Linked DNA regions of Homo sapiens: all the other regions are linked to region 1. The links come from fine-mapping of genetic effects on gene expression. A gene starts in region 1. Each other region holds a variant in brackets. All regions are shown on one strand. Distances are from middle to middle. Region 1 holds the start of PNMA3 (PNMA family member 3). Region 2 has its middle 22 kb from the start of PNMA3. Region 3 overlaps LOC105373378 (a long non-coding RNA gene).

What was found. PIP is the estimated chance that this variant, and not a neighbour inherited with it, causes the effect.
Region 2: its variant is fine-mapped to the expression of PNMA3 in whole blood (TOPMed, PIP above 0.99). The same link has a PIP of 0.9 or more in sun-exposed skin and unexposed skin.
Region 3: its variant is fine-mapped to the expression of PNMA3 in kidney cortex (GTEx, PIP 0.97).

The regions. Positions count from the first base shown.
Region 1 is chrX:153,050,766-153,061,800 of GRCh38, reverse strand. PNMA3 (PNMA family member 3) reads right to left here and starts at 5,331. Exons shown (of 2, transcript NM_013364.6): 1 at 5,163-5,331; 2 at 1,339-4,851. The coding sequence starts at 4,745. The coding sequence ends at 3,354. It also overlaps the pseudogene HMGN2P48.
Region 2 is chrX:153,028,596-153,039,630 of GRCh38, reverse strand. It overlaps the pseudogene LOC112268308. Among named protein-coding and RNA genes, the nearest start is that of PNMA3, 22 kb to the left of the region's middle. The variant G/A (reference allele first, on the strand shown) is at 7,053.
Region 3 is chrX:153,359,718-153,370,752 of GRCh38, reverse strand. LOC105373378 (a long non-coding RNA gene) reads right to left here. Exons shown (of 3, transcript NR_135656.1): 3 at 10,644-11,035. Among named protein-coding and RNA genes, the nearest start is that of MIR12129, 30 kb to the right of the region's middle. The variant C/A (reference allele first, on the strand shown) is at 5,002.

The DNA of each region.
Region 1 (11,035 bases):
ATTGTCACAATAGCTTTGGAAATCTGTGTGAAGTTTCTTATAAAGTTAAATATACCACTACCCTGTGGCCCAGCCATTCCATTCCTAGGTATTTACTCGGGAGAAAGGAAAACAAAAGTCCACAGAGATTCATACGAGGATGTTTCTATCAGCTTTAATCACACAATAACTGTAACACATATCTATTTTTAGATTAGGGACCTTAAAATAGATACTGCACTTGATCGTAGCCAAAAGGCCAAGAAGCCATGTGAACCTTAAAAATAGGAATGTGCCAGGGGTCAGAAATGGATGATTAGCTAGTAGGCCCAGCTCTAGGGCCATCAGCCTAGAGGCAACAAAAGTCTCACTGCTGTTTGGTGGCAAAGAAACTTCTACCTCTCTCTGCCTTCTTTCCAACCCTCTTGATCCCTTAAAGAAATAAAAAAAAAATCAATCACCCAACATTTGCACTCACACGAAAATTCACACACCCTCTCATAAACTGTCTCATACACACTAACACACATACTCACACACTCACCCATTCCACACATTCACGCATATGCACACACAAACTCATAAACACACTCTGAAACACACATTCACTCATGTGCACACTCAACAACACAAAGTCACCCACACATTCACTGTCATACACACATTCACACACCGTCTCACTCTCACATATTCACATACTTTTACTAACACACATATACATTAAACACATAAACATACATTTGACCACTAACACACATTCACTCACACACAAAAACTGATGCATACTCACACTCAAATACAAACACACATTAACATATTCACACACCATCTCACACACTCACATATTCACACATTCGCTGACACATGACACACACAAACTCTCCTACACTCACTCTCACACAATCACTAGTACGCATACTCACACATATTCACCATCTCACACACACTCACAGAGATGGGCCTGGTTTTGATGCTCCAGGTGTGGAAGCCCAATAGTGATACAAGGGATCCTGGGGCCACTGGTCCAGCCTGCTGTCCCTCACCCTTCCTTAAATATGTTATTCATTTCTGAGAAGCTCAACCAGTGCCCTGAGGACCCAACCAGCCACTGCCTGGGCCTACCAGTGTCCTGTCTACTGGGACTATCCAGCCTGCTCAGCTGGGTTTCTTTGCCTGGGTCCGTGGGCCGTGAACCCTAGCTCATGACCAACATGCGCAGATAGGGCATTCTAGAATGCCTTGCAGACCGAGCCCCAAGTATACACCAGTGTTAACAAAGCCACTGTGGCCCTCACTCCACCCCAACCCCATGCCCAGCCAACCTCATCCCCAGTTTCCCACAGCAGAGGCGAGGCCGGCTGGAACACTGAATGAAGTTTATTGAAGAGAAACACGTACTGAAAACGTTGAAGAGAAGGGAATCACAACACAGAGAGAAACTGCAAACGGCCACCACAGGACACAGGTCCCACACAGGTCCCGGGCCCCCTCCTCCTGAGGTTCCTGGCAAGACGCCTCATCTGCTCCTACTCCTGCTGCAGCCCCCGCTGCCAACTCCCTCCTTCCTGAGGGCCCCGGGGTCTGCCTCTTGCCAGGAAGGTAGACTCTGGCAGTGTCCACTGGCTTTAGGGAGTCCCCTCCCAAGCCCATCTGCTGGGGCAGGGCCCTGCCCTATGGCCCGCACAGGACAGTCACAGGACACTGGAAAACACAGCAGGGAACACCCTACCAGGTTAAGGAAACTGAGTCATGAGTAACAACAGGGGTGGAACACCAAAGCACAAAGCTCCTCGGGAGCCTCAGGCAGGGCAGCCCCGCTCCGTCCTGGGTCCAGTTCTTCCTCCCACAGTCACGGTCACCATCGTGGTCACAGGGTGAGCGTCCGCCTTGCCCTGGTGCTTCCTTCCTGTCATCTCCTGGGACTGTGCTGGGGGACTCCGGGGAGGAGCTGCTCAGAGAAGAACACACACAGCTCCACAAGAACAAGCAGCCACTGGCCTAGATCTACACAGGGAAAGCAGAGGTGGTGCTCATGACGCGGGACAGCAGTGAGCAGAGCCTGGGCTCACAGGAAGCTCACAGCATGTGCCTTGGGCCCAGAGGCGGCCACCTGGGTGGGTGCATAGCACACTACTTTGCACAGGAACAACGGCTAGCGGTGGGTGGGCGTCTGCTGGACGCGTGGGTCACTACAGGGGCCTACACAGGTGAGGATGAGCTTCCTGGAACAGGGGGCAGCCTGTCCCGGGAACAGTGAGTTGGGGGACCCCTCTTGGGAGACCCAGGCATCTGGCACCCTTGAGAGGGCCTCTTTCCCCCTGTCATCTCCCAGCTCAGGGCTGGGGGAGTTTGGGACAGACGTCTTCAGGTGCCTCCACCCAGGCCATGGCTGGCTGCTTAGGGGATGCCTCCAGGCTGGATTCCCCAAGGTGGCAGGGTTGTGGCTGGCCTTGGAATTGGCATTGGCATCTGTTGAGTTGCTTTGGCCATGGCAGCCCCAGGTTCTCCTTGCTTGATCTCTCCAGGAGTCTGGTGGCCCTGTACAGAAACAAGCAGAAGAAACAAAACCCTACCAAGTCCTCCCTTTTCCTCCTCCTTTGCAACAAAGACTTCCCTTCACAGCCACCCTGGTCCAAGTCAACTGTGAGGGCACTGGCCTGCCGGGTACCCAGTACCCCTGCTGGGGGTCTTCTCATCAATCTTTGGTCTCCTTGCCTGCACAACCTCTGGCTGGCACTGGGCTCCCGGGGCCTTAGGGTCTCCTGTCCTCACTGGCACAGGGCCTCCAGGGTGCTGCCTTCCTGGGGCTCCCCTAGTGCAGTGTAGATGATCCTGAAGACGGGATGGACCCTGTGGCCTCCCCTGCAGGGCTTTACCTCTGCCCCCCAGCTCTTCCTCACCAGCCCTGGCACCTGCTGGCAGGGGCAGGCCCCAGGTAGGCTCCTCCAGGTCCCATGTGGCCTGGGGGCCAGTGGGCATGTTCAGCTCAAAGTCCACAGGGTGGGTATTTAGGGGTGGTTGGATGAGCAGGACAGAACCCCCAGCCGTACCTTCTTCAGCTTCTGCTTCTTTGGGGTCCCCATCTGAGGCCCAGGCACCCCATGTGCTGGATGCAGTGGCTCCCTGCTTTCCTCTCCAGCACCTCTTCGGGGACCTGGACCTGACCCCCACTGAGCCTGTTGCCAGGTGGTCTTGGTTGCTGAAGTCCCTTCCAGCTGGCCAAGGGTGAGAAGGCTTGGCCTTGGTCTGGCTGCCCTGTCCCTCTGCCCCACTCAACTCATCTGCTGTTTGTCTGGGCTTCTCTTTCCCCTCCTTCCAATATCTCTTTTGTCTCCTTGGCCTGTGGTAGGAAATGTTGCCCTGTTCTCCCGAGCCTACTTGGCCTTGGACTTGGGATGGCTCTTGTCCCAAGCCCAGTTCCCGTTTCCCGACTCAACTGCAGCCTGTTTCTTCTGCTTTACCAAGAGCAGGTTGGAGGGGTTGATGCACTGTACCCTGATGTGGCCGTCTTCCCCACAGCTATAGCAGAATGTGTGGCGTTTCCGTTTTCTTGAGCCTCGAGAGCCAGCCCTTGCCACACCACCCCTTCGGTGTTGGCCTCTGCCCCTCCGGCGCCGGTAGCCCTGGGAAGGCCTCGCATCAAAACTGTTGCCAGAGGCAGGGAGAGGTACTGCCCCAACCCCAGTGATCCTGGCAGGTGGCCTTGGGGCTACTTCCAGCCCCTCCAGACTCTCCCTATCTGGACCTAAAGTGGCCTCCCATTCCTCCTCCTCACGCAGGAGCTTCACCAGGGCCAGGAAACCAGGAGGCTTCCTTCGCTGTTTCATCAGCTTAAGCTTATCTCGGAGTTTGTCAGGAAGGGTGGCCCCACTTAAGACTCGTTTCAGGCGAGTCTGATTCACGTTTCTACGTGATACCACATTGTTTTCTACAGCTCTTTGGAGCAGGGGTTCCAAACGTAACACAAAGCTAGATACTTTCTCTCCTGCCTCCTGATAGGCTTTACACAACTTCACCTGGGCAATTTTATGGCTCTCCACAGGTCCGAACACCTGCTGCAAGGCAGCCAGGCACTCCTCCACAGTTATGGAAGCATTGCTGGCCCGGAGCCCACTGACCACCTGGAGAGCAGGGCCCCGTAAGCATTCCATCAGCCTCCGCCTCTTTTCCCCCTCGGGCACCTGCCACATCTGTAGCATCTCAGTGGTGTGCTCAAGCCAGGCATCAAAGGCCAGTGCACCTGGGATGGATATGGTGTTCCCAGAAAACACTCTTAGTTCTCGGTACAACATTTGTTCTAGCAGAGGCTGCACTGCTGCCCCCAGAGTCTGGGCCCAGGTCCAGAACTCTGGTGATATAGTCACTCTTGGAGCCGAACAATTGGTGTCCGACCCGAGGACTCGGTTCATATCTGACACGGTCCGCCTCTCCTCCTCTAAGAAGCGGTTCAGTCTGTTGAGAAATTCCCCATCTGAGTTACGGGGTTTTACAATCACTTCCCAGGGCCCCCCCTTTCCTGGTATTTCCCTTGGGAGCAAAGCATAGTCGATATCTTGTGCCAGCTCCAGTAGAATCGCCTGGGCGTTCTCCTCCCTCCTAAACATCCTGCCAATCACCCTGTATCTGCCCAGGTGCCTGCAAGCCTCCTGGAGTGTCTCCTCAAACTCATCCTCGCCACAGTCCTCGGGGATCCCCAGGATGAGCATGCACCTCCGGGTGTTCAGGTGTTCCCCCCGACACCAGTCCTGTAACAAGGTCAACGGCATGTCCTCGAATCTCTGCGGATACTAATTTGGGGGGAGTGATCAGGGCGTGAGGCACATATCTGGATCAACTCCTAGGGTGATCGCAGAAGGCCCAGGTCTCCACAGCCTGTGAATGCGAGCAGGGCGAGAGCGAGGTTAATGCCCACCTCTCCGCACGCCCACATCCACGCCCACCCCCACCCCCACCCCCAGCCGCCCTCCTCCCCGGGCGGCGCCTCTGCAGCCAGGCCCCGCCCCTGCCCAGCCCCCCACCCCCACCCCCCGTGGGGTCTCTGCGGGCCTCAGCCCCCTCCCCGCGCTGCCCCAGGACCCTGGACCCCTGCCCTGCAGGCTGCTTCAGTTCTGATAGGGCGGACAGGCGAGGGGCGGCGGAGTCTCCCGGGGCCCAGCGTCTCCCTCCCCAGGTGGGTCTGTTACCTTCTCCCAGGGCAAGGTCCCTTCTGGTCGGGGTCCCCAGAGGGCTCTCCGGGGGCTATGCGCGGCGGCGGCGGCGGCGGCGGACGGGGGTCGGGCACCCCTGGCTCCCAGCGCGGACGTTCGCTCAGACTGTGGCTCTCCCTCGCTCGCGCAGCACGTGGGCCAGTGCGCCGGCGCCTGCTCGCCGCGGCTCTCTGCAGTGCGGACACGGGGCGGGGGCGCGGCGGCGGTGCAGCGCGGACCCCTCCGCGTCGTCCGGGAGACCGCAGGGCCATTGGCGCGGACGGGTCACGAGGTCGGGCTCTCGCCGCCGCCCCTGGGGGCCCCAGGTCCCCGGGTGACGTCACCTGCTCCTCTCCCCTAGCCCCCCCGCCACGGGGGCCCCCGGGCCCCCGGGCACACAAGCGCCCGCCCACCCCCATCCCCACTGCGGTGGCCAAAGGTCTGTGGCGGCCAGTCCCCGTGCCTTTGGCTCTCACCACAGCGGTTCCTGGTCCCGGCTCCTGCCCCTCCCGCACGTGCCACGGAGGTGCCAGCGGGGCGAGGGGTCTGCACCCCGGCGTGCCCACCAGAGGGCCAGGGAGTGGTCTGAGGTGCGCCAGGCAGCTCTGCATTATGGCCAGGGTCAGGGAGCCGGGTTCTGGGGCCTGTTCACCTGCTCTTGTCCTCCCCCTCCCCGTCCAGGACTGGTCCTCTGGCTGGCGAGGCCAGGGGCACCTGGTGCGGGTGCCATTCCGTGCAGGAGATGCCCCAGGCACTCATGCAGGTCACGCACACCACCCCAAGGAGGGTCAGCCATCTCCCCGCTGTCCATCCCGCTGCTGGGACCTGAGGCCCTCCGGCCAAAGCGCTTCGCTGCCCAGGTGCCAGTGGACAGGTTTACCGGGACCTTTCCGGTTTTGTGCGCTGCAAATCTAGTGACTTGGGAAACCACTTCCAGGACTTGGAGCCCAATCCCTTGGGCCTGCCCTTCCTTGGCAGCCGTGCGCCGTGGGTTCTATTGTATCCGTTTGATCCCAGGGCAGCAGCCAAATGAAGAAGGGAGTGACTGTCCCTCAGGCAGTGGGCCCAGGTGTTCTGTGGGTCCTGCCTGCTCTGCCAGCCGCATGCTCAACTCCTATTCACACAGCTTCAGCTCCTCTCCAAACACAACGAAAAGGGGCTTGTGGTTGATTTTCAGGCCAGGTTCACCCATCCAGCCAAGTCTGGGAGGCCACCTTGCAGTGAGTGGGGCACAAAACTGTCCACTGACTTCCTGCCCCACCCTGAGTTCTGCTCGTCAGCCTGGCACTTGTCAGGGACCAAGAAGAAATGGCCCCAAGGGCTTTTTCCTGGTCAGACAGAATTCCTGAAACATCTTTACAGGAGTTATTTCATTTGCTCCTCACCAGAACTCTGAAGCAGGTATTAACATTATCCTGATTTGACTCATGAGGCTCAGAGAGATTAAGAGACATTTTCAAGGTCACACACCGTATTGAAGGTAGAATTGAGACTGGATTCTAAATTAGTGCCCATCAGTCTTTGGGTAGAATTGGGACTATTTCTCCCCTGGTTGCTTCATGCCTATTAGAATTTATTTCTCTCATTTTTGTCCATTCACAGTCCCTTGCTTTGTCACTCCAAGGGCTCAACCAGCTTCAAACTGAACCTTCATCTGCCCAACTTGCAGGGGTGGAAACAGAGGTTCAGAGAAGGGACACTACTGGCCCAAGGTCACACAGTGAGTAAATGACAAAGCTTGAGATGTCAAGGGGAGATGCCAAGTATTCATGCCAAGGCAGAGGGGCGTGTCTGGAATGTCTCCGGAAAGAAGCCTGTGAAGTTCCCAGACAGACGCAGTGATCTGTGGATGTTCTGGGCATTGGGAAAAAAGGATTTGGAAACACTGGTATCAAGACAATAGATGTGAATATGTCCAATTTGAAAAGTTTTAGAACTCCTTTATATTGGAGTTAACCTTTGCCCTTGAAACCAGTGGAAATGTCTTAATTACTTTTGCTTCCCCATCTCCTTGCATGGTAGATAACACAGCAGCACCAAAGTTGGGGAACTGATGGATAAACATTATTACTTGTAAAGTGAAAAACATAATACAGCATGAAGGAAGCAACCTCCACCGGGGTGGCCTTGCCCTGGCTTAGACCAGTAGTGACTATCGGGGTCACAAAAGGGGCAGATTCATGGGCCCCACCTCTGCAATCTGATCTGCTGAGTCTGAAACAGGCCTGGGAATTTTTTAAAGAGTTTCTGGTAATTAAATACTTTATAAAATACATTCTGCAATATTTAACATACAAAACGTACTTAAAAAGTACATCCAGTACTCCTGAATGTAGTAACTGGATGAAGACATAAAACACTGCCAGTGAGGGTAAGCGCCTGCAGATTCCTTCCCTGTTGTCTCCCACTCTTGTCCTCCATGTGCATTTCTTCGTGCTTTTTCTGCAAATGACTATATCCCTAAAAAATTGTCTTTGTCTCTTTTACACTTGGCAGAAATGATATCATACTATTCATAGTCATCACTGTATTAACTAATTATTGTTTGTGAGAATCACCATTTTGATATAAGCAAATTTTATTCCTCAATTTTCACTTCTGTATAGTATTCCATTGTGTGTGTGTGTGTACCAAAATTTATCAATTTTCCCATTGACAGATATTTAAGTTGTTTCCCATTTTTACTATCAGAAACAATGCTGCTTTAAATATTCTTGGAGAGTTCCTCTAAGTTATGTACCTAGCCATGGCATTGCTGAATCAAAGACTATCTTTAGTATTCAGAGACATTGCCAAATTGTCTTCTGGGTTGCTGTACAAATTTATGTTTCCATCAAGCTCCATATCATCACTAACATTTCATATTGTGTGACTTAAATGTTGTTAATCCTGAGGAATGTCAATTGTTATTATGCTTTTATGTAGAATTTCTATGATTATGAATTAGATTTAATACCTTGGTTGGGGGGGCATTTTTTATTCCTCTTGATTGAAATTCCTATTTTTGTCTCAATTCTCAACTGGGGTGCTTCTCTTTTTTAATTCTTTCATAGGAGTTATTTATTTACTTTGGATATTTCTTCCCATTAAGTTACTATTCCTGCACAACCAGCTACCCAAAACATACTGGCTTAAAACAACCATTTTATTCTGCTCACAATTTTGTAAGTGAGAAATTGAGAGAAGGTTTAGCTGGGCAGTTCACTCATGGGATCTCTCATGTGGTTGCATTGAGATATGAGTTGAGAATCAAGTCTAAAGACTCAACAGGGCTGGGCACCCAAGATGGTTCATTCATATGGCTGGCATTGAGTCACACTTTTGGTACTTGCAGCCCAAAGCACGCTAATTTTTATAGAAGCTCAGATAACAATAGCTCCTCTGAATCATCATTATTGGACCAATTAAGTTTTTTATTTGGACTTTAAGAAATTTCTCTGGGAAAATACACAAATGGACAGAAATTACACCTCTTAATTTAAGACTGTTATGGGTTGAATTATGTCTCCCCATACCTCAATTCATATGGTGAAGTCCTAATCCTTAGCACCTCAGAATGTGACCTTATTTGAAAATAGGGTCATTGTAGATGTACTTAGTTAACATGAAATCAAGCTGGAGTGGTGTGGGCCCCTAATCCAATGTGACAAGTGTCCTTATAGCAAGGAAATTTGAACACAGAAACATGAAGATGCTCAGGGAGAACACCATGTGAAGATGAAGGCAGAGATTGGGGTGATGCTTCCACAAACCAGTGAATGCCAAAGATTGGCAGTAAAGCCCCAGAAGCTAGGAGAAAGGTCTCTGAGCAGATTCTCCCCCACCACTCTCAGAAGGAACCAACACTGACAATACTTTGATGGTCTTCTGGACTCCAGAAATGTGAGACATTCCATTTCTATTGCTTTAGCCACCTAGTGTGGTACTTTGGTACAGTCACTCTAGAAAACTAATAAAAAGATTAAACTGCAAATCTTCGAATGGTAAAAATGCTGAAAGGTTTCTGAAATGGAATCTGGACTAGATGGCATAACTATTTAATAATGAGGATACATGAGAGCCAGAGGAGAGCAAAGGAATTACTTATAAGATAAAAAAAATAAAAAAATAAAAAAAAGAATCTGGAAGTAAAGAGACAAGAACGACTCCCCAGAGTGGCCAAAGCCCGTGCACCACTGCATCCCTCCCCCAGAGCCTATGTCCCGCCACTATCACCACCATCCCCAAGAGAAAGGCTGAAGGGGATGCTAAAGGAGATAAATCCAACATGAAGGACAAACCACAGAAAAGATCCAAGAGGTTGTCTGCTAAACCTGCTTCTCCAAAGCCAGAGTCTAAGCCTAAAGAGGCCCCTGCAAAAAAGTGAGTGAAGGTACCCATAGGGAAAAGGGTAAATGCTAATGCTGGCAGGGAGGGGAATAACCCTGCAGAAAATGGAGATGACAAAACAGACCAGGCACAGAAAGCTGAAGGTCCTGGAGATGCCACGTGAAGTGTCTGCATTTTTGATAACTGTACTTCTGGTGACTGAAGAGTTTGAAATACTATTTTTTATCGAGTTTTATAAAAATTCATAATTTTGTTTTACTTTTTTTAAGCTATGCTGTTAGCACGCAGAGCACTTCATTGTTGTTTGGGGGGAAAGGGGCATAGGTCACTAATAGAATGTCTATGAAGCTGGATTGATGTGGGGAAAACACATTTCCCTTCTAGGTTTGAGAGACTTCCTATTGGTTCCCAAGAGGAGAGATTCCCTGACTTTGACACACATGGCCACCTTGGCACAAAAGCCTTGGTATGGAAAAACAAATTGTTTTTATGTCCTCTTCTCCCTTTCCACCTTTCATCATAGACTTAACTCACTCAAACCCAGACACCTGTTGGGACCTGAACCCAAATAATTGGTTACCAGTGTGTCAGGCAATCTGGACTTGCCTGTGATGCCACTGAGATGGTGCCCCTCAAAAGAGCAGCGGTTCTGTTTCTAGATTGTGGATCATCAGATAAATTCTGCCATTTTCATTTCACTTCCTGAAAGTCAGGGTCAACTCATGAAAGGTTGTTAAAACAACATGCTAAATGAGAAATGTCAACCTTCACTCTAAACTTTCCCTGTTCAGAGCATCAGATGAAGTCTTCATTGGGTTTTACAGTGGCTTTCTGATTTTTGGTAGTCCATTGAAGTAGGGAATTTGAAATGTTTTATACTGTGAATGACTGCCCATGTCCTGCCTGAAATACCATGATTGTTTCTGGAAAGTATCTTTAATAAAGCTAGATACAGTTTGGCTTGGGGAAAAAAAGAATCTTTCTTTTACAGGTTAGATTTAAGTAACAGTTGGTCACTGTCTGTTCCCTTTTCATTTGCCTCATTGTGCTCTAAATAAGAACTTTTACATTGTTCCTGACCAACAGAAGGCCAGGGCCCCCACAAGAGCAGGCCGTCCTTGATTGTAGGATGATGTAAAGTTACAATTACCAATTCTTTTTAATCATAAAATTCCCACACAAACAGATAGTGATTATGGGTCAAAGTTTTATTTAACTAATCAGTGAGGGAGGAGCAGAATGAAGAGCTGGTTCGAAAAGATTTGAAGGACTTATAGTTTTGGGGGAAAGAAATGATGAGGTAAATTGCTAAGTTAAATTCAAAACTGATTTACTCCTTGAGACAATAAGGCCATGGCACTTATTTCCCATTCAGGAAAAAAAAAATCACACCTTTGTTACTTTACAGAATTGTAAAACATTTGGGCTAAAATGAATTTTAGTCAATCAAAGTTAAATTTCTGGGAACAATCAAGTGAGTCCAGAATTAGAAAATTATCTAGCCCAATATTAAAAAGTCAGAGTCATCATTTTGCAGCATT
Region 2 (11,035 bases), 22 kb after region 1:
ACACCATTCCATCGAGGCTATTGAAGAGATTAAACATGTCAGAGGTTATTTTTAAAGGAAATTTTTAGGAGCAAAGAGTGCTTTGGCTTTTCTCCTACCCTCCCCAGGAGGGAGGATAAGGAGGCGCTGTCTCTAAAACCAAATCAAATGCATCAGTTCAGGTCCTCCAGGAAGTCAAGATGGAGTTAGAAGTGCAAAAAAATTATCACAGAAGATAAAGGGGAGAGGACACAGAAAGAGGCAGGAAGAACCTTCAGACCACAGGGCGGGTCTAACACAAGTGGAAAGAGAGGGAGAAGGAAGGATTGGAAGGAAGAGTCTCAGACAGTGGTGCAGCTTTCAAAAAGTCTTGGCCAGCCCAACGGGGAGCTCTGATGCAAAGATGGCCCATAGAGGAGTCCCACACTGAGCAAAAATGACCCTAGTACCCTGCTGTGCTAAGCCTCTGATAGGGAGCTGCCTGGAACTAGCATGGTCTCACCTCAAATGCTGCCTTGGACCCTGAAGACATTCCACCTGAATGCTGTCAACTAATTGCACTCCTCATAACAGGCCCTCTCTTAAAGTGACATCCAAGCAGTGCACTTCCATAGCTGCCACAGGCCATCCTTTGTGCCACACAGATCCACTACTCCATAGCTGCTCGGGAAGCAGTTCCTCCTTGGCTCCTGTGGGCCACTCTTTCTGAAGGTAAACTTAGAAGTTGGCAGTCGGGTGCGGTGGCTCATGCCTGTAATCCCAGCACTTTGGGAGGCCGAGGTGGGCAGATCACGAGGTCAGGAGATCAAGACCATCCTGGCTAACACGGTGAAATCCCGTCCCTACTAAAAATACAAAAAAAAAAAAAAAATTTAGCCAGGCATGGTGGCAGGCCTGTAGTCCCAGCTACTCGGGAGGCTGAGGCAGGAGAATGGTGTGAACCTGAGAGGCAGAGCTTGCAGTGAGCAGAGATCGCACCACTGCACTCCAGCCTGGGTGACAGAGTGAGACTCTGTCTCAAAAAAAAAAAAAAAAAAGAAAAAGAAGAAGAGAGAAGTTGGCGGGACAAAGTACAAGCCCCATCAGTGCAGTTGGTCCTGCAACTGCAACAGGTATTTATGATTACCCTCTTCCACTATCCATTCTAGATTTCCCTCACCCTCAACTATAACCTCTGCAGTTTTGGCAGCTTCCTTCATCCCTGAGTGGTCTGAGTCCCTCGTATCCATACCCTTCTTAGGCCACTCACACTGTACTTGATCACTTACAGCCAATGAGGCAAAAGAGTACCAAAAGTCACTAGAAAAGATCATCTGAGTCCCGAGCATATTCCTCTCTGCCTCTATTATATAACAGCAGTCTTACCTCTTCCTTGATAATTCTCTATTACTCCCACCACCATGATGATTCTTCCTGCTTGCTGGTGTCTGGAATCAAGGAACCCCAAAATGCCAGGCAGCAGTGGTGGCTATAAGTACAACTGGAACCCAGGCTGTATGTCCTGATAAGAGTGCAAAGAACCAGAACCTCTACCCTGCAGAGCCTAGATTTAAGGAGATGGGAAGCACAATGTTGGCCCCTGAGTAGGTCACTGGGAAAGATGGAAAGTGAGGCCACTTTGGCCTCCACCCTATGGCTTCCAGACCCATGTATTCTTCCTACTGGGGACACAGTGCCACATGGACATCTCTGACACAGTGCATATACTGCATCCTGGAGGATGGCGCCTCATCCTTGTAGGGTATTGCCTCTAAGCCTGTGCTCCAGCTACACCTCCAGAAGGCCATTCCAACACTCTATCAAGCTAGTAGCTTCTGGGTGGCACAGTGTGACACCAGACTATCCCATGCTCATGGGCTCATGCACATACCTCCTTCACTCTGAAGTGTGTCCCTTGGTAGGATACCTTCTTGTGTGGGATTCCAGGTCTGCAGGTCATGCACTCTGAAAGCCCCTGGATAGTGATGTTAGCTGAAGTTCTGCCAGGAGGAAAGGAAAACCCATACTCAGAATAGGTTTCTGTCCTTGTAAGAAAGAATGGATGTCTCTTCTAAGAGATAATGGACCCAACATGGAGAAATGGTGCCATATTGGGGTCTCAGCATTGGTCTCTTTCACTGGAAGACTGGACCTTCAGAGCTAGTAGCAGCAATAAAGGCCTTGTTAAGTAGGATTCCATGCTTCTGGGCCCGTGAGCAGTCTCCATCTCTCACACTGTGGCCCATCTGTTTATGTGCCCATTGTGTCAGTTCTGGACTGGCTGATGGTGAAGGGTGGCTAATATCCAACTTGCTGAGTCATTTTGTGCACTTGACAGTTCAGCTCCTCTTCTACTGTTGATGCTTTCTGGTGGGCACTTGTATGTGACGTAAGCTTTTCCTTCATGCTCACTCCCATGTTTATCCATATGCCTCTACCCCAGACTTCCTTGTCTCCAGTTTTCCAGTCCTTTCCTTTTTAGACCTTTGGCTAGTCCATTGGCCACTGCTCAGAAATCTGTGCATATTCCTACCCTGGGCCACTTCTTCCACACAAAGTGGATGATAAGGTGCACACCTTAAAGCTCCACCCATCAGGAAGATCTTCCCTCCCCACTGTCTTTCAGGGACGTCCCTAGGTGGGTGTGGCTGGAATATAGCTGCTGTCCATTTCAGAGACTGAGCCAAACCATTCATAAGCAATATTCAGGCCTTTTCCTCCTCCTTCATCTAGCCACATGAGATCGCACAGCCATAGGTGTGAGCTAAGGGAAGGGCACTGGTGTAACTGTGATGGGTCACACAGGCATCTTGGCTGCTACTTCCATAGCTCACTCACACTTCTGTTCCTGACTAGATGAACTATTTCCATCGTGCAATGGATTGCTGGAGGGTCATCTGACTTTTCACTTTGTGGTCTGACAGACCCAGCTTATAAGGAGAAATTCCAGCTTATAAGTGACACACAGTCACTTGGTGTCCCATGGTCAAGCGTTGTCTCTGCAAGGGCCCAGAAGCACACCAGAAGCTGTTTTCTAAAAAGGTGTATGATTCTCTGATGCGGGTGGCATGGCCCTGCTCCAGAACCCTAGAGGCCTGTGTGGCGATCCTCCCATGGGGACTGGCCTTAAACCCTACCCTGCCTCCATTCTTACCACTGACACCTCTGACACTGCAGGGTCTGTCAGATGTGACGGTTCAAGAGTTGCACTGCAGCCTGGACCTGCTGCAGATCCCTTTCCTGCTCCCAGCCTCTCTCAAATCTCCCAGCCTTCTGTGTCAACCAGTGTGTGAACCGTAGAAGTTATCTTATGGGTGGAATGTTTTCTCCCCAAAACCTAAAGAGGTCCACCAGGTGCACTACTTTCTTTGTGGTGGAGGATTCAAGAGGCAGTAATTTGTCTTTTCCTTTGGAGGGGACATCCTGGCACGCCTCCGAACACTGGACCCCTAAAAATTTCACTGATGTAGCAGATCTCTGAATCCGCATAGGGCTTATTGCCCACCCTCTGGAGTGCACGTGTCTCACCAAGGCCTCCCAGTGTGTAGGCTGCCTCTTACTTGTCCTGTCCAATCAGAATGATGATGTCAGTGTAACAGATCCACGTGCCATTCTATGCACTGTCTAGATGATCCACATCTCTTTGAACTATATTATGCCACAGGATAGGTATAACACAGGGCAGAAGCGTTAACATGGTCCTGAGACAAATTGTAAATAAAGATTTTTGTTTGTCCACATGATCGTGAAATGCTTCTGTGTCAGTCCATTTTCCATTGCTTATAATCGAACACTTGAAACTGGGTAATTATAAAGAAAAAAACAGGTCTTACAGTTATGGAGGCTGAGAAGTCCAAGGTAAAGGGGCAGCATCTGGTGAGGGCCTTCTTGATGGTGGGGACTCTCTGAAGAGTCCTGAGGTGCCACAACACATCACATGGTGAGATGGCTGCGTGTGCTCCGGTCTCTCTGTCTCTCTTCTTCTTCCTATAAAGCCACCAGTATCACTCCCATGATAACCCATTAATCCATTAACCCATTAATCAATGATTGCACTAATCTACTCATGAGGGCCTTGCCAATGAGTAAGGGAGTAAGTAAGGTAAGGGATTTAGTGGCCCAATACCAGAAAGGAGCAGTGTGTTTTTAGAAGGCATTCTCCCAAATCCTGCCTGGCTGAGAAGGGGAAGACTTGGCATTTTGGGGACAATTCAAAAGTAGAATGAATACTTTTTGTTAGTTTTAAAACAAGTGAAAAAAAAAAAAACCAATGACTGGGGAACTTCATCTGCTTCCCTTACACTTGAAAAGTGTAAGGCTTAAAGCCACACCTCTCAATACTGTCACACTGGGGATTAAATTTCAACATAGTGAGGCAGAAATTTAAAAATAAATATGCATTCATTCACTCCAAAAAAAAAAAGTAACAGGCAAGGCAAGGGTTAAGAAGAAAAAAAGGGGTTTTCCTCTGCCTAGCAAGCTAACTTCAAAGACAGTTATAAGATAACGCTGTTTAAGGAGCCAAGGCCAAAGGAATGGGCTCCAGACACCCCTCCCCTCCAAAACAAGGTTAAAGGAAAAAAAAGAGAGAAACACAAATTCCTTTACTGTTACTCCTTTCCCTGGCTTCTTAAGCATACCTATGTTTTACAAATATCTGTATTTAGCCAGTTCTTATTTTTCTTTCAACGCAGCTACAAGGCCACTGGCTATGCAAGGCCACAAGTTATGCTATGCTATAAATTATATAACCTATCATATAATTAGCTACTTTTATTTTACTTTTGTAAATCCGCTTATAAAAACCCTGCTCTGTCTTTATTTAATGCTCAGCTTCTTGAATACAAATCCACTAAGCTGGTGTGTAGCTAAAATAAACAATCCTCCTGTTCTCCATATTGGTCTCTCCAGTCCTCAATTTCCCACAACAATAGGTTTAGGAGGGGACAAACATTCAAACCACAGCAGCTTCTTATCCTCTTTCCTTGACCAGCTGAAATGGAAAGGAATGCCTTCATCAAACCAATGGCCACATACTATGCACCTAAGGCCTTATAAATCTATTTGAGCAATGATACTGTGTCTGGTACACAGCATCTGCAACTGGGATTACTACTTGATAAAGCATGAGGTAGTGTACACTCATTCTCCAGAATTCATCCAATTTCTACAGGGGACAGAACTGGCGGATAAAATGGAGATATGATGGGGACCACCATACCTGTTAATACATCCTAGAGGTCTTTAAAGTGGCTCTAACCTCCATTATGCCTCCTGCAAAATTGTTTTTAAGGTCACCTTCAGAGGCAGATAGATCCCCACTCAAAAATTGGCTAGGATGTTAAGACTGATGACACCACATACACACCAAGAGGACAAGAAAAGTTTCACTACTTATGTAATTGAGGGTTTTCAGGAGAGGGGAGCAGTCATCTCCAGCAATTCCAAAATGGCTTCTGGAAGCAAAGGAAGGAGAGTGGCCTAGGTTTTCACTGAGGTTAGAAGTGGGGGGCCAAGATGAGAATTCCCACATGGAGACAGGAAATTGCATGGTTTGAATTTCCTTCATGCAGCAAAGAAGGGAGCATGCAGGCTTTTTTGCCAACTTGCTCAGAGGTAAGTTACAATGGGAAAAGGAAAGGTCAGTTTCTAGGGAGAATAAAGACTGAGGCAGGTGCTTCTCCAAGCACTGCTGCTGCTCTGGGAAAGGGAGGATCTTAGTTACTTGAAAGTTAAACTTTAAAGTGGCCCGTGCTCTGCCTGGCCTTCAGTCAGGAAGGGGTTATATGCTAGAAGGAATATAAAGTACGGCCAAAAGACAAAACCACTGTGAAAAGAGATGACATTGGGCTTTCTCAGGTGCTTGGAACCCATGCCAGCACAGAAATTGCTTGACTTCGTATAAGCAGACCAGGAAGATACTGTGGACATAGACCAGACTGGGCAACAGAGCAAGACTGTGTCAAAAAAAAAAAAAATGACAATGGGAAAGTCACAACTGTGCTGTCACTCCCTGTGTAATAATTGAGCTTTCGTTGAATGATACTGAGGGCCTGTCCAGGCAGGAGTAAGAATGTTAGATTTCCAAATATACTGTTTGGGGTGCCATCACAAGCATCAAGGAGGCAGGAGATGGTATACCATACTGGACAGTTTAGGAGACATTTTGAGTATCAAAATGCATCAGCCCCCCATCCTTCACCTTTGGACTCATGCCAGAGCAACAGAGCCAGCAGGCTTGCTAACTGTTGACAGAAGGAGCACATCACAAACTGGAAGCGGTAGAGTGTAATGAAAGCAGCACGGGTCCCAGAATTAAGAAGTCTGGTTCTGCAATTTTGTAACCAGAGCAGTTCCCACCAATCTCTTGTCCTTGGTTTCTACCTTTAAACAAAGAGAGACTTCATGATCTCTGGGGCTAGGGAAAGTAAGGCTCCACTGCCCTGCAGGATGTCAGGATGACGCCACCCCCATGGCGCTCCCTCATCAAACTCCTAGGGAACAAAGTCCCTCCTCACTGAGCCCCACAGACGAGCCCCGGTCAGCCCAAGGGCCCAGCATGGTTGGAGGGTCCAGCTGCCCTCCCTGTCTGCACGTCCACACCCCCTTACCCTGGACAGCCCTGACGACCGTTGTCTGGTGTCCCAGAGCCATGGCCGCCAGGGCTCCCTGCGAAACAAGCTCAGGCCACAGGAGCCCCGTTCGGCCCCCGCGGGACCGCGCTCCCTCCCGCCGGCGACGGTCCACGCGCGGTCACCCCAAGGCCACTCTGGCCACGGCTGCAGACCTTGAGCGTGGGAAGGGGCAGCCAGCTCCTCGGGCCCATTCGTGATCCTCGGGCGTCCTCTGGCGGCCAGAGCGGGCGTGACCTCAGGAGAATCCCCGCCGAGGCCGAACTCGCCCCGATGGCCGTTTCGCTTTGTGGACGGTCGCATTTTCCCAGCGGGCACTGCGACCGACTGTGACTGTGGTTCCGGGTATGGTGGTTGCACGCCTGTGGTCCCAGCTAGTCGGGAGGCTGAGGCGGGAGAATCGCTTGAGCCCAGGAGGTCGGGGTTGCAGTGAGCTATGACAGCGCCACTACACTCCACCCT[G/A]GGCAACAGAGCGAGACCATTTCTCAAAAAGAATAAAATGACAACCGGAAATATACGACCGTGCTGTCGCGGCTGCAGGAAATGGCGGCGTGCCCAGGCGCACTCATGACGGCTGCGTGCTCGTCAAGGTGCACAGGCGCGCACGCGTAGCGTACACTGGTGAAAGTTGCGCATTTGGACAGGCGACACGTCCTGCGCCCGCTACCCAGACTCTGGGGAAGGCAAGGGGTGCCGCTCTGTTCTACTCCTTTTCCTTATCCATCTCTTCTGTCTTTCCAAAGAGATGGTGAAAGCTCCACACACAGGATAAACATGAGGAACTGAGGAACAGTTAAAAAGATGTCTATGCTAGAGCTTCAACCCAGGCCTCCGCCCCAGCCTGCTGTCCCCTGCCTGCCCTTCCACGTCTTATGCACTTCGTTCTGGGAGCCTCCATGCATGCCCTGGGGAGCAAGCCACACATTGCCCTCGCACGGCAGTGTTCCGTCAACTGGCACCATCCAGCATGTTCAGCTTGGTTTCTTTCCTCATCCTCATAAGCCACTGACTCTGGGTTGGAACCACCATCGCAGTTAGGTCATTCTCTACAATCGCTGGCCTACTATGCCCTGACCGTATCCCAGTGAGCACAATAGGGTCAGAATTCCAGGCCACTGTTGTCCCCCAACTTCCATTTTATCCCAAAGAGACCTTTCCCACTAGTTTCCCACAGCAGAGGCGAGACCGGCTGGAAAATGGAATGAAATTTATTGAAGAGAAACGTGTACCGAAATCACTGAAAAGAAGGGAACCACAACACAGAGAGAAACTGCAAACAGCCACTACAGGACACAGGTCCTAGGATCCCTCCTCCTGGGGTTCCTGGCAAGGCGCCTCGTCTACCCCCGTCCTGCTGCCGACCCCACTGCTACCTCCCTCCTTCCCGAGGGCCCCAGGGCCCGCCTCTTGCCAGGACGTGGACTCTGGCAGTGTCCACCGGCTTCAGGGAGCCCCCTCCCAAGCCCATCTGCTGGGGCAGGGCCCTGCCCTATAGTCATCACAGACAGTCACAGGACACCAGTAAACACAGCAGGGAACAGCCCACCAGGTCGAGGAAACAGTCACAAGTAACAACAGGGGTGGAATGCCAAAGCATAAAGCTCTCCTGGGAGCCTCAGGCAGGGCAGCCCCACTCCGTCCCGGGTCCGGCTCTTCCTCCCACAGTCATGGTTACCATCGTGGTCACAGGGTGAGCATTGGCCGCGCCCTGGTTCCTCCTTCCCGCCATCTCCTGGGTCTGTGCTGGGGGCCTCCGGGGAGGAGCAGCTCAGAGAAGAACACACACAGCTCCACGAGAACAAGCAGCCACTGGCCTAGATCTACACCAGGAAAGCAGAGGTGGTGTTTAAGATGCAGGACAGACAGCAGTGAGCAGAACCTGGGCTCACAGGAAGCTCACAGCACATGCCCCGGGCCTAGTGGCGGCCGCCCGGGTGGGTGCACAACACACAACTTTGCACAGGAACGACAGCTAGCAGTGGGTGGGCGTCTGCTGGGCGCGTGGGTCACTACGGGGCCTAAACAGGTGAGGGTGGGCTTCCCAGAACAGGGGGCAGCCTGCCCCGGGGACGGCAAATGGGGCAACCCTCTTGGGAGACCCAGGCAGCTGGCACCCTTGAGAGGACCTCTTTCCCCTGTCTCTCCCAACCCAGGACAAGGGGTGGGGGACAGACATCTTCAGGTGCCCCCACCCAGGTCGCAGCTGGCCACTCAGGGCTCCCTCCTGGCCAGCCCCCCAGAGACGGCAGGGTTTGGGGCTGGGGCTGGGTGCAGCACTGGGTGCAAAGCAGGGGTGCCTCCCCCAACCCCATTTGGTATCAACGTGGTCATCTGGGTCACCGGGAAGGGCTGATGGTGGTGGCCAGGGCCCTTTGGAGGGAGGTGGGGGGCCCCGATCCTGATGTGGGATGAGGGACCAGCCCTGGCCTGGCCTCCCCACTGCCTCCAGGATGCTGCGGCCTGAGAGGAGAGGAGGCCCTGGGGCCCTCTGAGCCTATTTGCCTGGGGAGGATTTGGGCTGACCAACCTTCCTGGCCCCATCCTCATTTTCCAACTCCTCCAGTATGAACATAAGACCCCCTTGGGTCGGGGGGCTCCTCAGCCTCCTGGCCTCCTGCCTGGACAAGACCCTCTGGCTCCTTCGAGGCCTGCAGGGGCATTTTCACCTTCCCTAATGGCAGGGGTGCTCCTGGCGGCCTCTTTGGTGGCAGGAGCAGTCTCAGCAGCATCTTCCACGCCAGGGTCAGCCTGGCTGGCGTCTTCCTGGGCTGAGGAGGCCTGAGCAGCATCTCCACAGGCAGGAGCTGCCTGGGCGGCAACTGGATCTTCACTTTCCACTGTGGCCACTGGCCAGGCCACAACATGCTGGCTCCTCACTGGGGAGGCCGCCCACGCCTCCATCTCCTGGATGAGCTGAAGCAGCCCCAGGAAGTAGGGCGGCCTCCTCTCCAGTGCATCCCCCTCAGGGTATTCTGGAGTGCTTCGCCAGGGCAGGCCTGAGGCTGCACCTACCGCAGTCACAGGTGGTTGGCCAGGGCCGGGCAGACGGCCCCCTTCTCCAGGGCCATCTGCAGCAGGCCTTCCAGGCATACCAGGAAGGCAAAGGGCCCCTGCGTTCAGGTCAGGAACTTCAGCCTGGAAGTCATTCGAGGGTCCCGGTTTCCAAACGCCTGCCCCAGCACCGCTGCCCAGCAGTCCAGCAGCGCCTGGCAGTCCAGTGCCGCCAAGTTGGGATCTTCCTCTAGGAGGCCGCTCACAACGTCCAGGGCTGGGCCACCCAAGCTCTCCAGCAGCCATCTCTTCCTCTCCCTTTCCGACGCATGGTACCACAGCTGCAGCATATCCTTGGCGTGCTCCATCCAGCTCTCAAAGGACTCTTCCTCGCAGCCTGGCTGCTCCCTCCCTGAAAAGGGTCTCAGTTCCTGGTAGGCCCTGTTTTCCAGCACAGCCTGCAGGGTGCAGCGCCGAGGCTGGACCCAGGCTCTTGTTACATTTGTCCCTCTTGCCTCACCCACAGCTCCTGCCTCACCCGCAGCTCCTGCCTCACCCACAGCTCCTGCCTCACCCACAGCTCCTGCCTCACCTGCAGGTCCTGTATCACCTGCGGCTCCCTCATCTGACTCTCTTGCCTCTTCTGCAACTCTCAACTCATCTCCAGCTCCTCCCTCACCTGCACCTTCTGCCTCACTTGCAGATCCTCCCTCACCTGTGGCTTCTGCCTCACCCTTACCCACAGCTCCTGTTTCACCTATGGCTCCTGCTGCACCTGCAGCTCCTCCATCACCTGCCTCTTCTTCCTCACCTGCAGCTCCTGCCTCACCTGCAGATCTTTCCTCATTCACACCTCCTGCCTCACCTACAGATCCTGCCTCACCTGCAGCTCCTGCCTCACCTGCACCTCTGGCCACTGCTTGCCCCTGGGGCTATGCAGGGAAACTGGGTATATCCTGAAACTCAGCATCAAGGGCCTGGGGCAGGGAGATCACTTTCCAGGGTCCCCCTTTGCCTGCTATTTGGCGGGGAATCAAGCTTTGGTTTAAACCCTCAGCGAATTCCACCAAGGCTGCCCTGGCCCCGAGCTCCTTTCTGAAGACCTTGATGAGCACTCGGTACCTGCCCAGGGGCGACAGGGCAGCCCGCACGGCCTCCTGGAACTCATGTTCCTCGCAGTCGTCAGGGATATCCAGGATGAGCAGAGAGCGCTCTGCGTTCACACCCATCCTCCTGCACCAGTCCCGAAGCATCGCCAGAGCCATCGCAGAGGACTTGAGGGAGGGAGCCTGATCAGACAGGAATGTGTGCTGACTGTTGCAGTCTCTGACGCAGCCTGTGAGTGCAAAGGGGAGAGAGGGACGTTGCTGCCAGTCAGCCCACCCCCACCGCACAGCCAGAGACCAGCCACTCCCAAATGCAGGGCCTGAAGCATCTCCCCTGCCCAGTGTCAC
Region 3 (11,035 bases), 310 kb before region 1:
TGGGCAACATGAGAGATTCTGATGGGAGATTTGGAGAACAGAAGGGAAACAAACATGTAACTAAGTTCTCGTAACTAGAAGATAGAAGGAACAAAAAATAAGAAAAATACATAGACTACAATAGAAAAATGGGCCAAAGTCTTGAACAGACAATTCTTCACAACATATGAAAAGTGCCCGACCTCATTTGTCATTTCAGAACTATAAGTTGACGTTAGTGGGAGATACCATTACACACCCACCCGACTGGCAGAAACCAAAAGGTATCACAGTTGCAAGTTGGCAAAGCTGTGCAGCAGTGGAAACTTCCCACACTGCTGGTGGGAGTGTGCGTTGGGAAAAGGGTTGGCATCCCGTAGTAATATTGAAGACACACTTCCCCTATGACCCAGCAGTTCCACTGCTAAGTATACAAACTCTAGAGACACTTGTGTATGTGGGCCCCAGAAAGCAAGTGTAGACGGTTGCAATACATTGAATGGTGCCCCCTACTCCACAACAAAAATGATACATGCCCACGTCCTAATCCCTAGGCACCATGAATGGGATCTTATTTGGGAAAATGGTCTTTGTGGATGTAATTAAGTTAAGGATCTTGAGATTACATCATCCTTGGTTATCCACGTGGGCCCTAAACCCAATGAGAAGTGTCCTTATAAGAGAAAGGCCTGAGGCCACTTGAGAGAGGCTTTGTGAATATGGAAGTAGAAAGTGGAGTGATGTGGCCTCAAGCCTGGAGCACCAGAAGCTGGAGGAAGAAGCAAGAAAGAGAATCTCTCCTCAAACCCTCAGGGGAAGTGTGGCTCTGCTGATGCCTTGATCTTGGATTTCCAGCTTCCAGAACTGTGGGAGAATCCATTTTTGTTATTGTAAGTCGACCACTTTGTGGTATTTTGTTGCAGCAGCCACAGGAAAATTGTACAATGGTTCATCACAGCATTTGGTGGCTGAAAATAAACCAAATACTCAGCAGGGGTGGGATGGATAAATACATCATGGTAATGTTGTACAATGGAATACTCTACCGGGATGCAAAGGAATACACTCTAAGTATGCTATAGTAAGGATGGATTTTAAAGACACAGTGATGCATGAAAGAAGCAAGACACACAAAAAACATACATTACAGTTACAGTTATGTAAAGTTCAAAAACAGCAAAGTGGAATCATATGATTTATGGATGGATGTGTGCTTCAGTGGCAAAACTCTGATGCAAAGCAAGGAAAAGATTACGAAAAATTTAATAAGAAGGTGATTGCAAGGGACACACTCTGGGCTGGGGTGGCGGCCAAGGCTCTAGCCCTTGATCTGGGGTCCAGGGGGTTAGCTGAGTATGTTCACTTTATAACTGTAGAGTTTTAAAGTGCAGAAAATGCATGTAAAAAATATATATGATTTACACAGTCCTCTGTATCTAGGCTGTATTTCACAATCTGAAAAGTTGGGACATTAGCAAGCAGAATTCAAACAATGATTATTTGCAGATTATCTATTATATATATGTCTCTGCATCAGGAAAAATCTAAGGGAATCTACTAAAAAAGTTACAAAGAGTAGGGCCGGGCACGGTGGCTCACGCCTGTAATCCCAGCACTTTGGGAGGCCGAGGTGGGGGGATCACAAGGTCAGGAGATCGAGACCATCCTGGCTAACACAGTGAAACCCCGTCTCTACTAAAAATACAAAAAAATTAGCCAGGTGTGGTGGCGGGCGCCTGTAGTCCCAGCTACTCGGGAGGCTGAGGCAGGAGAATGGCGTGAACCCGGGAGGCGGAGCTTGCAGTGAGCCGAGATCGCACCACTACACTCCAGCCTGGGCGACAGAGCGAGACTCCGTCTCAAAACAAACAACAACAACAACAACAGCAACAAAAACAAATTAAAAAAAAGTTACGAAGAGTAAGGAGAATTCAGTAAGTTGTATGGGTACAAAATCATTGAGACAAACAATAAGTTAGAACATACAATAAAAAAAAAGATGCCATTTAATAAAAACAATAAAATACCTTGAAATAAATTTAACAAGAAATGTGCAAGATCTATGTAAAGAAATTTTAAAATGTTCCTCAGGGCCATCAAAAAAGGCCTGAGTGAATGGAACGGTCTATAATGTTCTCAGATAGAAAAAGTCAACTTCATAAAGAAGCAAAATTTCCCTACATCAATCTCTAAATTAAAGATGATCCCACACACACAACCACAGAAGATTTTGGAATTCGTCAAGATGATTCTAACATTGGTGTAGAAAACTAAAGGAGTAAAATTAGCCAGAAGTATTCTGAAAAGGAAGACTAATGAGAGGGGCACTAGTCCTACCAATATAATGCTTATTATAACATAATAATATATGTTTGATGTGATATTTAATATAATACTTATAACATAATGTTTGATGTAATATTTAATACAATACTTACATGTGTGAGGTAATATTTAATATAATACTATAACATAATATTTTGATGTCATATTTAATATAATACTTATAACGATATATGTTTGATGTAATATTTAATATAATACTTATAACATAATATATGTTTGATGTAATATTTAATATAATACTTATTATAACATGTTTGATGTAATATTTAATATAATACTTATAATGATATATGTTTGATGTAATATTTAATACAATACTTATAACGTGTGAGGTAATATTTAATATAATACTATAACATAATAATATATGTTTGATATAACATTTAATATAATACTTATAACATAATATATGCTTGATGTGATATTTAATATAATACTTATAATAATATATGTTTGATGTAATATTTAATATAATACTTATAACATGTTTGATGTAATATTTAATATAATACTTATAACATAATATATGTTTGATGTAATATTTAATACAATACTTATAACATGTGTGAGGTAATATTTAATATAATACTTACTATAACATAATATTATGTTTGATGTAATATTTAATATAATACTTATATTAAAACATAAATTGAGAGTAATTTAAAAGAACTGTGTAGTACTAATATATGAATAGAAGACAGAACAATAGAAAAAACAGAAAGTCTAAAATACATCCAAATACAAACGAGGATTTAGAATATGATAGAAATGTTATTTCAGTTCCTTGGGGAAAGATGGGTTATTCAATAAATGGTGTAGGGATAAGTAGGTGGCCATCTGGGAAAAATGTGAAGTTGAATCCCACATCATAATGTGCAACCAACTAAATTCTGGATGGATCAGATTTAAAGATTAAAAAAATAAAGCTATAAAAATATTGGAAGAAAATATGGGACATTTAAAATATGTTGGAAGAGAGAAGGCCTTTTAAAGTATGACAGAAGCCAAAACAGAGAAGCTTGATTAATTCAGTACATAAAAACGAAAAGTTTCTTCAACACAAAACTTCCTGCCAGCAAAGTCCAGGGCAAATGTTAAACCGGGAAAATTATTTGCAATTCCTGTTGGAGACAAGGAGGCTAGTTTTCCTATTATTTAATAGTTCCTACAAAATAGTAAGAAAAATGACAGCAACACAATAGCAAAACAGGCATAAACTAGGAATACGGTTCACGGGAGAGAAATACAAATGACTTCCAAATAAGAGAAATCCAAATCAAAACTACCTGCTTTCATTTATCAGACTGGCAAAAGTAGAAAAGTTTGATAGCACCCAATGTTGGCAAGAGTGTGGGCAAATAGGCACTGTCCTATGTTACTTTTGGGAGTTGGACCTGGTACGACTTCTGTGGGGGTAATTTGGCAACATCTATCAAAATTACAAATTGTGTACCTTTTGACCCAGCAATTGCACATGCAGGAATTGATTCTACAGATATATTTTTGTGAAAAGATAAAAGAATACTAGATGGACATTAAAGAGAATGAAGAAATTAGGTGCTGATATAAACCATCTCCAACACACATTGTTAATTTAAGAAAGAAAAGTAAAGCACAGTGTGAGTAGCATGCTAGCATTTGTATAAAATAGGAATGTGTGTGTGTGTGTGTGTGTGTGTGTGTGTGTGTGTGTGTGCATGTACATGCATAGAATGTCAATGGATAATTGTTGAAGTTGGGTGGTGGGTACGTGGAGGTTCATTATACCATGTGCTATTTATTGCGTATGTCTGAAATTGCCCATTATAAAAAGTTGAAAATATACTTAAAGTGATGACAGTAAAAAGAATATCTCTAGAAGAATAAACAAAAACTGGGTAATACTGGTTGCCTCCACAGGCAATGTATTAATTAGGAACTGTGTTCAATGGAGTAACAGAAAACCAGCAGTGGGGATTTAAACACAAAAGAGTTTATTTTTTCCACGTATGGAGACATAAGGAAGTAGGCAGTTGCTGGCTTTTGTTAGTTGCTTGAGGATGTCAAGAGAGATCTTTACGATTTTCTTGGCTTTTTTTCTCTATCCGCACCAACATAGCTGCTGAAGCTCCAGCCATCAAATATGTGTTCTAGGTTAGGAGAAAGAGAAAGTGTGGGGATCAAACAGGGCAGCTCCTGGTAATTCAGCCCACTGTCAGGAACCTTCCAGAAGCTCCACCCAGTGACTTTCACTCTCATTTTACTGGCCACCCCTATCTGCAAGGAAGGATGGGAAATGTAGATTTGAAACTTGCAACACTACTACTCCCAACAAACTCAGGGTCTCTTTACAAAACAAATAATGAGAAGAGTCAAAATAAATGGATTTTAAAAATGCCGGGAAAATACTAACAGAGAGAAAGCAGGTAGAACAATACTACTATCATGTAAAATGGAGCCCAAAGCAAAAAACTTTCTCAGGGACAAATATGACTATTCCTATATGTAAAAGACACAAGCTTAAAGGCTTGGTGCCCAATATAGTTTCATAACATGTGAAACAAAAACTTGATAGAAGTTCAGAAAAAATTGACAAGTTCGTAGTCAGAGTGAAAGAGACTTACTATACTTCTCTCAGGAACTGACAGACCAAGGAAACAACAAAATAAATAAGTATATAGAGGATCTGAATAA[C/A]GCAAGTCAGGAGCTTGACCTAAGAGGTGCACAGTGTGTATAACTGCATCTGACAATCAGATAACGCAGAGTTTCTTCTCAAAAGTATATGAAACATTATCCAAGACTGACTACATATTTGGTCACAAAGAAAATCTCAAGTTCAAAGGCAGAAATCATATTTATTGAATCCAAAACACTAAAATAAGAAATTAGTAACCAAAGGAAAGCCCCCAATACTGAAAATAATAATTAATAAAATAAATAAATTGCAAAAAGCCCAGAATAGTTGAAAAGACCAATATTTAAAAATGCACAAATTCATAGAGATATTGGTCAGGAGAAAAGAAGGTGAAAAAACAAATAAATATAATGAGAAACAGGACAGGGTGTAAACTTCAGATGCAGAGTCAATTTTTCTAAAACTTGTAAGAGAATACTATATATAGGCCAGGTGCAATGAAGACTGAGGTGGGCAGATCACCTGAGGTTAGGAGTTAGAGACCAGCCTGGGCAACATGGAGAAACCCCATCTCTACTAAAAATACAAAAATTAGTCAGGCATGGTGGCACATGCCTGTAATCCCAGCTACTCAGGGGGCTGAGACAGGAGAATCACTTGAACCCAGGAGGCGGAGGTTGCAGTGAGCCGAGACTGTGCTACTGCACTCCAGCGTGGGTGACAGAGCAAGACTCTGTCTCACACACAAAAAAATAATACTATATATAGTTTTATGTGAATACATTAGAAAATATAGATAAAATAGAAAATTTTCTAGGAAAATACAAATTATAATAATTGGTCAAGAAGTAGAAAATCAGAATAAACCAATATCCATAGAAGAAATGTAAAGATAGTCAAAGATCTATGCTTCAATATTGCATCAGACCCAGGTGGTTATATGGTTAAATTCTGCTAAATCTGAATTGAAATAGGTAATTCTCATATTGTACAAACCCTTCTCTGCATTGAAAAAGATGGAAAGCATCCAAACCCATTTTATGAGGCTATTATAACCCTGATACCAAAATTGGAATCAGATTGCACAGTAAAAGCACTGTGTAGATCAATCTTCCTCATGAACAAAAACACAAAGATACCTCATATCCATGAGGACATTACAAGGATCCTTTATCATGTCAAAGTACGGGTTCCCTCAAATAATGCAAAGATAGATCAATATTAACACAGTTATTAATGTAATTCACTTCATTACTGGTTAAAGGGAAAACATAATATATTATCTCAACTGATGTAGGAAAAGCATTTGATAAAATTCAGCATCTATTTACAGCATCCTTGCCAACTTTTAGTAATGGACTCAGCCTGATCAATGCGAGACAAGAAGGAAATACAGAGTATAAATGTTGGACTAGAAAAGACTATAATTATTCAGCTATGTTGTGCTCATTTTCTAAAGAATCTAAAAGAAGCACCTGACAAATCTTTAGTGTTCATATGAGATGTTTTCACAGGCTCTACCTTTCCTGCAATGACCAATTAACCAATATACTATTTTTAAAAACCTTGTAATCCCCAGAACAACGCAAACTATAAAATCATTTGAACTTAAAAGGCATAAAAATGCATAAGACTGATATAAAGAAAAATATAAAAACTCACTACAGGACATAAAAGTAGCCTGAATAAATGATAAGATATATCATGTTATTGGATAGAAAGATTCAACTTTGAAAGACGTCTGCTCTTCTGAAATTAATCTATAACTTTAATGCAACCCCAATAATAATCCTCAAAGGATTTCAATAGAACCTGTGAGGCAAATCTTAAATCAATTTGGAAGAGAAATGTACAAGATTGGCAAAAAATCTTAAAAGAAAGAACCTACTAGATATCAAAACTTATAAAGCAATAGTTAAAACAGTAGAGTATTGAAGCAAGAATCATCATATTAATTGATAGGACAACAGAAATTCCAGAAACACGCCCATGAAAATTTGGCTATTTAGAATTCATTCGTTCATTCATTCATTCATCCATCCATTCAGTTGACAAATCATGACGTGCCAGACATTATTTTAGGGGTGAGGAAAACAAAGCCTCTGCCCTCATGGAAGCATGGAGCTTACTTTCTACGTGATGAACTTGGCATTTCAAATAATCGGGGGAAGGATGGTGTTGGGACAATTGGTTATTCATGTAAGGAAAACAAAATAATAGATTCTAACTATAGATCATAGAAAAGACAATATTCCTGAGTGATTAACAAAAAGTCTAAACATAAAAAACAAAACTATAAAAAAGAAAACTATACAAGCAAATTTATAAAAACAAGACTAGAGGATAAAGAAGATGTTATTAAGTAAGGCACAAAATGCACACACCATAAAAGAAAAGCCTGATACATTTGAGGACATAACTGTGAAAAATATAACTTCTACAGGACAATAAATGAGCCATTAACTAAGTTAAAAATAACTGTGGGGCTGGGCGCGGTGGCTCACGCTTGTAATCCCAACACTTTGGGAGGCCGAGGCTGGCGGATCATGAGGTCAGGAGATCGAGACCATCCTGGCTAACATGGTGAAACCCCATCTCTACTAAAAATACAAAAAATTAGCTGGGCGTGGTGGCAGGTGCCTGTAGTCCCAGCTACTCAGGAGGCTGAGGCAGGAGAATGGCATGAACCCTGGAGGTGGAGCTTGCAGTGAGCCGATATCGCGCCACTGCACTCCAGCCTGGGCAACAGAGCAAGACTCCGTCTCAAAAAAACAAAAACAAAAACAAAAACAAACAAGCAAACAAACAAAAACAAAAAAACACCGTGGAAGAAGCATCTACAATGTACATAACAAAGGGTTACTATCAAGCATATAAAAAGAACTGCATGTCCATAGGGAAATCAGCAAAGAGTATGAAAGAGCAGTTTACAGAAGATGCCATTGAATGGTCTGTAATAGTAAAAAGATGTTCAACCTGACTGCACTAGTAATCAGGGAAGTGCAAATGATAAGGAAGTACCTGCCATTTTTGCCCGTTGGTTTTGGCTAGGGTGGGGGGACATGGGAACTCTTGCCACTTGGTACAGGCTTTTTTGGAGGGAACGTTGCCAGAATCTACTTTTAAAATGCCTGTACCTTTTGAACCCAGTAAATGCCACTTCTGGGGATCTGTGGGTGAGACTGCTCATTGTCTCTCTGGCCCAAGGGCTATTATTCATGGGTGCTAGGCTGCTCAGTGAGACGAGATTGCCCAGCATCCCTTGGGGTGAGTGTGGTGCCCACTCCCCACTCAAGCTCCTCCTCAAGTGGAGCTGCTATAGCAGGGTCCCTGAACCACTGTGCACCCATAAATTGTTTGTTAGTGGTGGGTCCATGACCAGCATTAACTTTTAAACAAATCTATAAATTTGTAAAGGAGAAAGGAGACTTTACTTCTTTTTAAGGGTTACAGCTTGCAAGGTGGTCGTCCTGCAGGCTGGGAAGCGTGCCTCTGGCCAAGACAAGAGACAGGCACTTTGAAGGAGGAGGGGTTGGGCTAGGATCTTGGTGCTGGACAGGTTAGCTAAACATACATATTCAACAGGTTACAGGAAGAGCTATGAATATTCATAAAGGGGGGTCCTGACACATGTGTACTGAACAAACATGCATGTAACATATGACCCATGTTCACTTTGGGGTGGAGACTTAACATTTAAATGTATTACAGTTAGGTCCTATACATCCAAAGGTCTTTTCAGGACATGAAGTCACTCAAGCATGAAATCTCTGTAAACTGGCAAGAACAAGCATGTGGCTGCTGGTCTTATCAGGAGAAAGTTACTGAAATCAATCTCTTGTCCAATCAAAGCTGTAGTTATGCCTGGTGGAACAGGGGTTCAGTTAGTCCATGTCTGAAGCTGGCTGAGCTGCAATTGTTTATAATCTTGCTTATTTCAAGGCCAGTGCTTGTTTAGCTGCTAGAGAAAAAGAAAAACTTGTGGCAGTGAGAGCACAGTTCATTCTGTAAGTATAGGGGTGTGGGACTTAACCTTTGCGTGGCATGGCCTTAGGTCCTGTTTATAATTTCGCATCTAATTGTCATCAAGAGTGTGTTCTGTCAGTCTTATGATCTCTATTTTAACACCAATGCAGGTTAGTTGTTGTGTTTAATCTCCAAAAGGGAGGCATGTCTGACCTGCTGTCTCATCATGGCTGTGAACTCATTTTTAAGGTTTTCTAATGTCCCCCTGGCCAAGAGGGGGTCCGTTCAGTCAGCTGGGGGCTTAGGATTTTATTTTTAGTTTACATTGGGTTAGTACAGATATTAAGGCTTTTATAGTAACAGAATATCACCATGGCATCTTTATTGCAAGTTAAAAAATATTTCACTCCACAATTGAATGAAATAAACTGGCTTTTCACCATAGACCGTTTGAGAAGTGCTGTCCTAAAGAAGAGAGGAAAAAGGCAATGTGAGGAGCTGGGGTCTGTGAGTGACTGTGTGGAGCACAGCTGCCCCATCAACCAGGACTACATGGCTCAGACTTCCATGAGAAATGATCCTCAATTTTCTCTAAGCTACTGCTTTATTGCAGGTCTCTTTGTTGAAGCAATGTAGTGTCACTCTACCTAACTCAGCATCTGTTGTACAGCTCACACCTGTGCACAAGAGATCTGAGCAAGGCTCTTGCAGCATTGTTTCTATTAGCAAAACCCTGGAAAATACCTGAATATTCACCAAGAAGGGGAAGGGTCAAATAAACCTCACTATGCTCATGCTATGAAATACTGACCTGTAGTTAACAACACTCTCCCAACATTCTCCCACGCTTAGTTATGTGAAGAAAGTAAGTTGCATGATAAACAGCTGGCATGATAAACTGTCTATTGTGTGTGTACATATATGCAGGTAAATATGCAGAAAAATGTCAGGACAGATGTTCTCAGAAAGGGGGGTGTGATTGGGAGGGGCCAGACAGTGACTAAACGGGGTTTTTATTTTATTCGTATTTGTTTAATATTTTAAAATGAGATTATATTCATGTTTTGTTTGTGTAATTAAAAATGAATATAAAATAGACAATAGTCTTTTTTTTTTCTGAGACATAGTCTCATTCTGCCACTCAGGATGGAGTGCAGTGGTGCAGTCATAGCTCACTGCAACCTCTGCCTCTCAGGCTCAAGTGATCCTCCTACCTCAGCCTCCTGAGTAGCTGGGACTATGGGTGCATGCCATCGTGCCCAGCTATTTTTTTTTTTTGTATTTTTGGTAGAGATGGGGTTTTGTCATGTTGCCCAGGCTGGTCTCAAACTCCTGAGCTCAAGTGATCTGCCCACCTCAGCCTCTCAAAGTGTTAGCATTACAGGAGTGAGCCACTGTGCCCCGCCTGTTCATACATTTTTAATAATAACACAGAACAGGATAAAAAATCTCACTCGATGATTTGGCACACCAGCGTTTGCAGCACTGAATGAAGGAACTTTAAGAATGGAATTTAGTTTTTACTTGTTTGACTCCATTTAAGTCATAAGTGTCTTCAGAAAGAGCACCATGGGGAATTCTCATCTTGCAAGAAAAAAAAGAATCTCCAGAAGGAAAAACTCCAAAGCTGTGTACAATTGTGTCTTTGATAAATTGTCTCTAATCCCCAAAAATAAAGAATATAAAAATTTAAAGAAAAAAATAAAGCATTGGAGAAAAATGTGGTTCTCAAACATGTTTTAAAAAACTTATTTGTTTATTTATTTTTGAGACAGTATGTCACTCTGTCTCTCAGGCTGGAGTGCAGTCAAACACATTTTTATCTCAACTAAACAAACTTCAAGCCAGACTTTACAGAATGCCTTAGGAAAACAATTGCTGAAAAATTTAAAGGAAATCTTGTGACTATGACTGCTATAGATGCTGGAAGTTTTCAGTAGTTAAGGGCAAAGAGTTTTTGAGATTTGACCCAACTGTTAATCCTAGGAGCCAGGTTCCTTCTGGAAAACACACCACTGAAGCCTTTCTTCTGGAATTCAGTTGGCTGCTCTAGGAGCATCAGGTGTCATGCTGCGGCCAGCAGGAAGTGGGTAAGTGCCCAATACAGGGACCCCAGGAGTCTGCTTT